Regions from separate parts of the Homo sapiens genome. Here region 1 is linked to region 2. The links come from fine-mapping of genetic effects on plasma protein levels. Region 2 holds a variant in brackets. A gene starts in the other region. All regions are shown on their reverse strands.

Region 1 (2,500 bases), not on the chromosome of region 2:
CAGCTCCCCGCAGGCCTCCTTCACACGATAACCTGCCGCCCAGAGAGTGGGAACTTCGCAAGTCTGCGGGAGGCCCCTTCGGGAGCCCACCCATCACTCCACCCGCGCCCAGAGCCCAAGCAGGGAGACACCAGCTAAGGGGACTCAAATGGCCCATGAGCCCCACGGGACACAGCAGCCCCATCAGCCATGAGCAGAGCTGCTCTGGGGAAAATCGGAAAGTTCTGGAAGCACATGGGGCCTCCTGGGACACCTGGCCCGGCTCTGGTATGTGCCCCCGAGCCCATGTCTCTGGCCACGGTGGGCCAGCCACGTCTCTCAGACCCACCCCCTGTGCAGTGTGACTGTGAGGGTCCCCCAGGGTGAAGAGTCCAAGCTGCTGGCCTGGGGGTTCTGCCCTCACTGTCTGCACACCTAGCCCCAGGGCTTCATCACACCCATGGCTGTGGGGGCAGAGAACACAGGGGTGTCTGGGGCAGAAGGGGGCAAGAGTGTCTGCCCTCGGCCCACAGAGCTGGCCCGCCAAAGGGCTGCACCTACCTGGACTGCACTTGGGGCAGCACTCGGAGCCCACTGGGTACTCGTCCTCCTTGCAGGACGGCAGAGCTGGGGCGTAGCAGGGGGCTCCCAGGAAGGTGAGATACAGCACCTAAGGGGGTCAGGACAGGCATTGGGAGATGCCCTGGCTGCCCTGTGGGCTCTGCCAGGCTTGGCCCCACAGCCTGAATCTCCCTCTGTGCAATGGGGAGGAGCGGCAGTGCCTGGTAGAGAGGACAGAAGCGGGCCCCAGGCCAGGCTCATGGAACAACCTTGCCGACCGCTGGAGCCCGGGATAGGGTGGGGACCGCCCCTCCTCCAGCCCTGATGACGCTGCCTGGCAGCGCGGAGCCCTGGGAACTGGAACTCTGCCCTCGCCAGGGACCCCACACCCCACACCTGGGAGCATTGAGCCCACTGGGCAGACAACCTGCCGGCCCCCCTGCTGGCCTAGGTTGGACCTGCTGACCCCTGAAGAGCCAGCAGGGGCAGCCAGGGATGGGCCCCAGAGGCTCACAAGCCAGACAGTGGGTGACAGGCTGATCAGGGCCACATCGGGGAGGGTGGCTCTGCCGTGGCCTCGTTCCTGGGCTGGCTGATGGGCAGTCGGGGGCCCCTGATGGGGATAGTGGCTGGACAGGCAGGAGTGCCACATGAGCATGGAGAGTATCCCCACCCCACCCACCTGGGTCCAGCCCCCTGCTGCACACTGATCTTATCACCTGTCACCAAGGTCAGGGCTGCCGGGGAGTTGGGTCACCTGCTCGAGGGCCCCGCCCAGAGACGCCCAGAGACACCCAGCCCCCAGAAGTGCCCACATCCGGCCAAATGGGGGCTCACCAGCTGCCCGTGGACGGAGTGGTGAGTGGGGGACACACGCAGGAGGAGGTCTGCTGGGTAGGGCTGTGGCTCTGCTGCTCACCCCACTGTGGTGAGCCCAGTGCTGGGGGTCTGGGTTGACCCGAGAGCCCCAGGCAGCAGGGGACGGGCTGGACGCCGGAGCCAGCAACGGCCAGGACAGGGGCATGGGGAAGAGATCTGTGGGAGGCCCTGGGGTCAGAACTGGGATCTGCGAGCAGACGGAGAGGAGGCTCGGGGGCTCACCAGCCTCAAGACGTCGGTTTTGGGGGTGGATCTCCAGGGAGGAGGCCCCCAGTCTCCAGGAGGCTCCATGCCTCAGGCTCAGACCGGCAGCTCGGGAACCCAGCTAGCAGGATGAACTCCAGCAGAGGAACTCAGCGCCATTGCTGCGGCTGTGGGCCAGAAGAGAAAGAGAAAGAGAAAGAGAATCCGCCTCGGTGTGACAAGCTGTGCCTCAGAACCCGAGCAGCAGGAGAGTGGGCAGCAGGGGGTGTCTGGCAGCAGAGAGGGGCTCAGGCCTGCTGGGTGGAGCGGCGCTGGGGGACACAGGTGGGCCCTGCGGGAGGCAGGAGCTGTCCAGGCAAAGCCGAGGGGAAGGGCCGGTATGAAGGAGGCGCCCGATGGGAGGGGCGAGTTCTCCCCCTGCACCATTCCAGTCCACTCCGGGTTTCCTGTAGAAGGGGGAGCCCCCCAAAGTCCATCTGTGTTTCCCCACCTCACTCACACACTCAGGGACCCTCGGCTGCTCCCCGGGGCGCTGACTGACATTTTTGCCGAATAAAGGGGCCCTGTGGGTTTCCTGTTCCCATCTCAGCTTCTGCTGAACAGGGTAAACTTCCCTTCCGAATAAAACCACCAGAATGCGGTCTGGCCAATTTCAGTCATAGACCCACCAGGCCTGTGTCCCTGCGTGAGGGGGTGGGAAAAGCCCAGAGTGCCCCTACCCGTCCCCTGGGAGGGGTGGAAGGGCAGCTCTTGCTCCCCCTGCAGAGACGCTGCGCGGACTGGGAAGGCTGCCAGCCTCGCCCGGTCTCCCTGTGGACCCTGCCCTGACCCCACCCCAGCTTCCTGGCTCCCTGCACCCCACTGGGCTTCCCTGCCC
Region 2 (2,999 bases):
CCTCTGAGGGTGGTTGGGAGGATTAGACTAGCTAATGTACGTGAATTGCTTAGAACAATGGCAAGTAGAAAGCCCTACAGAAGCATTTATGAAATACACATAAGAAAACAACAGGCCCGGGTGCACAGGCGCTCACAAAGGCACACACAAACACACACAACTGCGCCTCCAAGTCATGCACCACAACTTCAGACACGTGAACTCACACAGGGACTCAGACACTCACAATCACACAGACCCAGATGAACACCATGCCCAGAGTCCCACAGAACCCTGCTCTGACACATAGACTTACTCTCAGGACACCCACACCCATCACCCTGTCTACCCCTCAGGCCGTCACACACCAAACTCCGGGGGTGGGGTTGGTGGTAGTTCTATCCCCTGGCATTCGTCAGTACTTGGAGTGTCTCTGCAGAGGGTGTTGAGCTCCTCTGAACCTCAGTTTCCCCATCCACAAGGCCTTGTATGGGGCTGTCTTTGGTGGGGAGCCTTTGCTGGGGCCAGAATTGTGAGGGTGTAGGCACAGGTAAGTGGGAAGTGCTGAGGACCTCAGAGGAAGGGAGAGCCTCTGATGATGGGATTCTCAGGCAGATGTTTCTTCCAGGCCCTCTCTTTTACAGATGGGGCAACTGAGGCACGGAGAAGGACAGCCCAGGCTTACACAGGCATCATGCAAAGGTGGAGGAATCCCAGGCTCATTGGAACTGCCTGGAGCTCTGCCCCGTGTAGGGAGCTGCTGCTGGTCAGGAGGAGGAGGCTGCCTGACTGCCCTGCTCTCTAGCAGGCAGATACCCCCACTGGGGAGCAGGGAGAAGAGGCTTTGAAGTTAGGCGCACAGGCAGACAGCCTCCCCAGGAACGGGCTCGTCCCAGGGGATGGGGTTGCTGTGGAATAGGACTGAGGGGCTGGGACAGCCCCCTTCCCAGCAAGTGGGCCCCAGACCCTGGCCCAGGAGGAGGAGGTGCTGCCCACTCTGTGTCTCCAGCTTTCTGCCTTTGCCTGTCTCCCTATTTTTTTTGCTGTTCTTAGTCTGTCCACCCCTCCAGCTGGGGGGATCTCTCCTCCCCACCCGGCTTTGTCTCTGTCTCTCCTCTCCCTCTAGCCTTCCCTACCATTCTGCTTTTAGGTCACTCTCAGGGAGTGACAGTCTTTCCAGGGGTCTCCTCACTTCCCCACAGGATATGCTGTGCTTCTCCTACAGGGGTGCACTGTGAGGTCAGTCTCCTTCAGGGAACTCCATCCCTTCTCCATGCCACACCACACCCACCTCCTTGGGGAAACAGCTTCTACCCTGGGTGAAGCCAGACGTGTGCATGTGTGTGTGTGAGGGCTGGAGGGGGCCCCTAAATCCTACCCCCTGCCTGGATGATTCTGACCTCAGACCT[A/G]CATTCCCTGTGTCCGGGACTGCAACAAAACTTGCAGAAAACAGAGGTCCCCAAAGCAAAGTCTGTGGGAGTACGCAGCAGGGCCAAAGCCCAGCCTTCTGTTGGGTCACACTGTCATCTTCCAGGGAGAAACAGCCATGGTGCTCACAGAAGCAGAGGATGGTGAAAACTCAACCACAAATTGCCAGATTTGGGACCCCAAACGAGGCTTCAGAAATAGGGAGGCTTCAGGCAGCTGGAACCCACAGTCCAGACATCCCAGAGACAGCAGGCACCCAGGATCCTGGATCAGAGGGGACTCTCACCCAAAGTTCGAACTACTGGGGGAACTCAAGACTGCGTGCCTTAGACCTATCCCGCGGACCCTAGGGTAAGCCCGCAGCCTGTCCCGGAGTGTTGGCGGCGGGGGACTCACCAGCGCGTACGCGGAGCTGAGCACGGGGCAGCAGAGCAGGAGCGCCAGGCCGGGTGCGATCCGGGCGGTCCCCATCGCCACCGCCTAGGGCCGCGTCCCTCGGGGCAGCCGCCGCCGCCGGCCCTGGTGGTGGTAGGGGGTGCAGAGCTGCGTCAGGCTGGCCGCCCCGCCCACGCCCCGGCCTATGGGACCCCGGCGTCCCGGCGGCCCGAGGCCCCGGGGCCCGGCGCGGGGCCCATGCGCTGAGGGCGAGCGAGCGAGCGAGCGAGCGAGCAGCGCAAAGGAGGGAGGGAGGGAGGGACAGGAGGGAGGGAGGGAGAGCCGGAGGCCGGGCGGGCGGCGGGCGGGCGCCGAGCGCTGCGGAGCGGCCCGTCTGCCTCGGAGCGAAGAAATCACATCCATATGGCCGGGCCCCCCGCCCCCGGCCCGCCCCCCGCCCCCCTCCCGCGCCGCCTTTTCTTTCTTTCTTTCTTTCTTTCTTTCTTTTTTTTTCTTTTGGGGAAATGGGAGCTGTGGCTTCGCCCCACGCCCAGTGGGGGGAGGGGGCGGGGGAGGGGTCGGGGTCGCGGTCTGCGGGGGGCGCGCAGGACTGTTATTTTTAGCTCCGCGACTTTCGGCGTAGGGAGTCAGGGCCGGGCAGGGGGCGCGTTCTGAGCCGCGCGGGGCGTGCAGTTAGGGGGTGCGATCTCAACTTTGCAGCCACACTGAGCCCTTAGGTGTTCCGGCCGCCAGCCCCCGGCCGTTCGGCCTCCTGAGATCCCAGACCCTCGGCAGCCGCCTCCCGCACCCCTTCCCCATCCTTGGCCAGAGCCCCGCTTGCGCCTGTGCGGCTCGGGCGCGCAGCGGCCCCGACGCTCTGTCGGTCTGCCTGTCTGTCAGTCCGTCTCTAGCTCCCCCGGCCTTGGCCTCAGTTCTTCCAGCGGCCCCAAGCTCCGTTTCGGTCACTCCCTCGCTCCCTCCCTCCCCCTTTTCTCTCTACGAAAACATTTGCAAGTTTCCAAAAAAGCCACCGAGCCGAGCGGCGCGGGGCTGGCGACTCCCCCGGGTTCCGAGGAGGCGCCGCCGACTGACACCGAGACAGAGCAGCCTGGCTGCTCCGGCCAGGCCCGGAGTCGCTCCTCCCCGACTCCGGCCACTTCCCCTCGGCGCGGGTCCCCAGCCCCGACTTACTCCGAGCGCGCCGCCGCGGCCCCCGC

Alleles and levels. Positions count from the first base shown, and alleles are read on the strand shown. Strength reflects both the effect of a copy and how common the allele is.
As copies of G replace A in region 2, the plasma level of the protein whose gene starts at base 2,004 in region 1 goes down (weak association).

What was found. PIP is the posterior inclusion probability: the model's chance that the variant is causal. Protein levels are from antibody-based Olink assays in UK Biobank. Linkage for the fine-mapping came from a reference panel and not from the study's own genotypes, which makes the PIPs less certain.
Region 1: it holds the start of TNFRSF14, and the variant in region 2 is fine-mapped to the plasma level of the TNFRSF14 protein (UK Biobank, PIP 0.96).

Annotation. Positions count from the first base shown.
Region 1 is chr1:2,555,875-2,558,374 of GRCh38, reverse strand. TNFRSF14 (TNF receptor superfamily member 14) reads right to left here and starts at 2,004. Exons shown (of 8, transcript NM_003820.4): 1 at 1,642-2,004; 2 at 541-649; 3 at 1-32. The coding sequence starts at 1,710. TNFRSF14-AS1 (TNFRSF14 antisense RNA 1) reads left to right here and starts at 1,364. Exons shown (of 7, transcript NR_037844.2): 1 at 1,364-1,398; 2 at 1,679-2,500.
Region 2 is chr3:46,882,439-46,885,437 of GRCh38, reverse strand. It overlaps PTH1R (parathyroid hormone 1 receptor), which reads right to left. Exons shown (of 16, transcript NM_000316.3): 3 at 1,804-1,926. The coding sequence starts at 1,878. Among named protein-coding and RNA genes, the nearest start is that of PTH1R, 6.2 kb to the right of the region's middle. The variant A/G (reference allele first, on the strand shown) is at 1,389.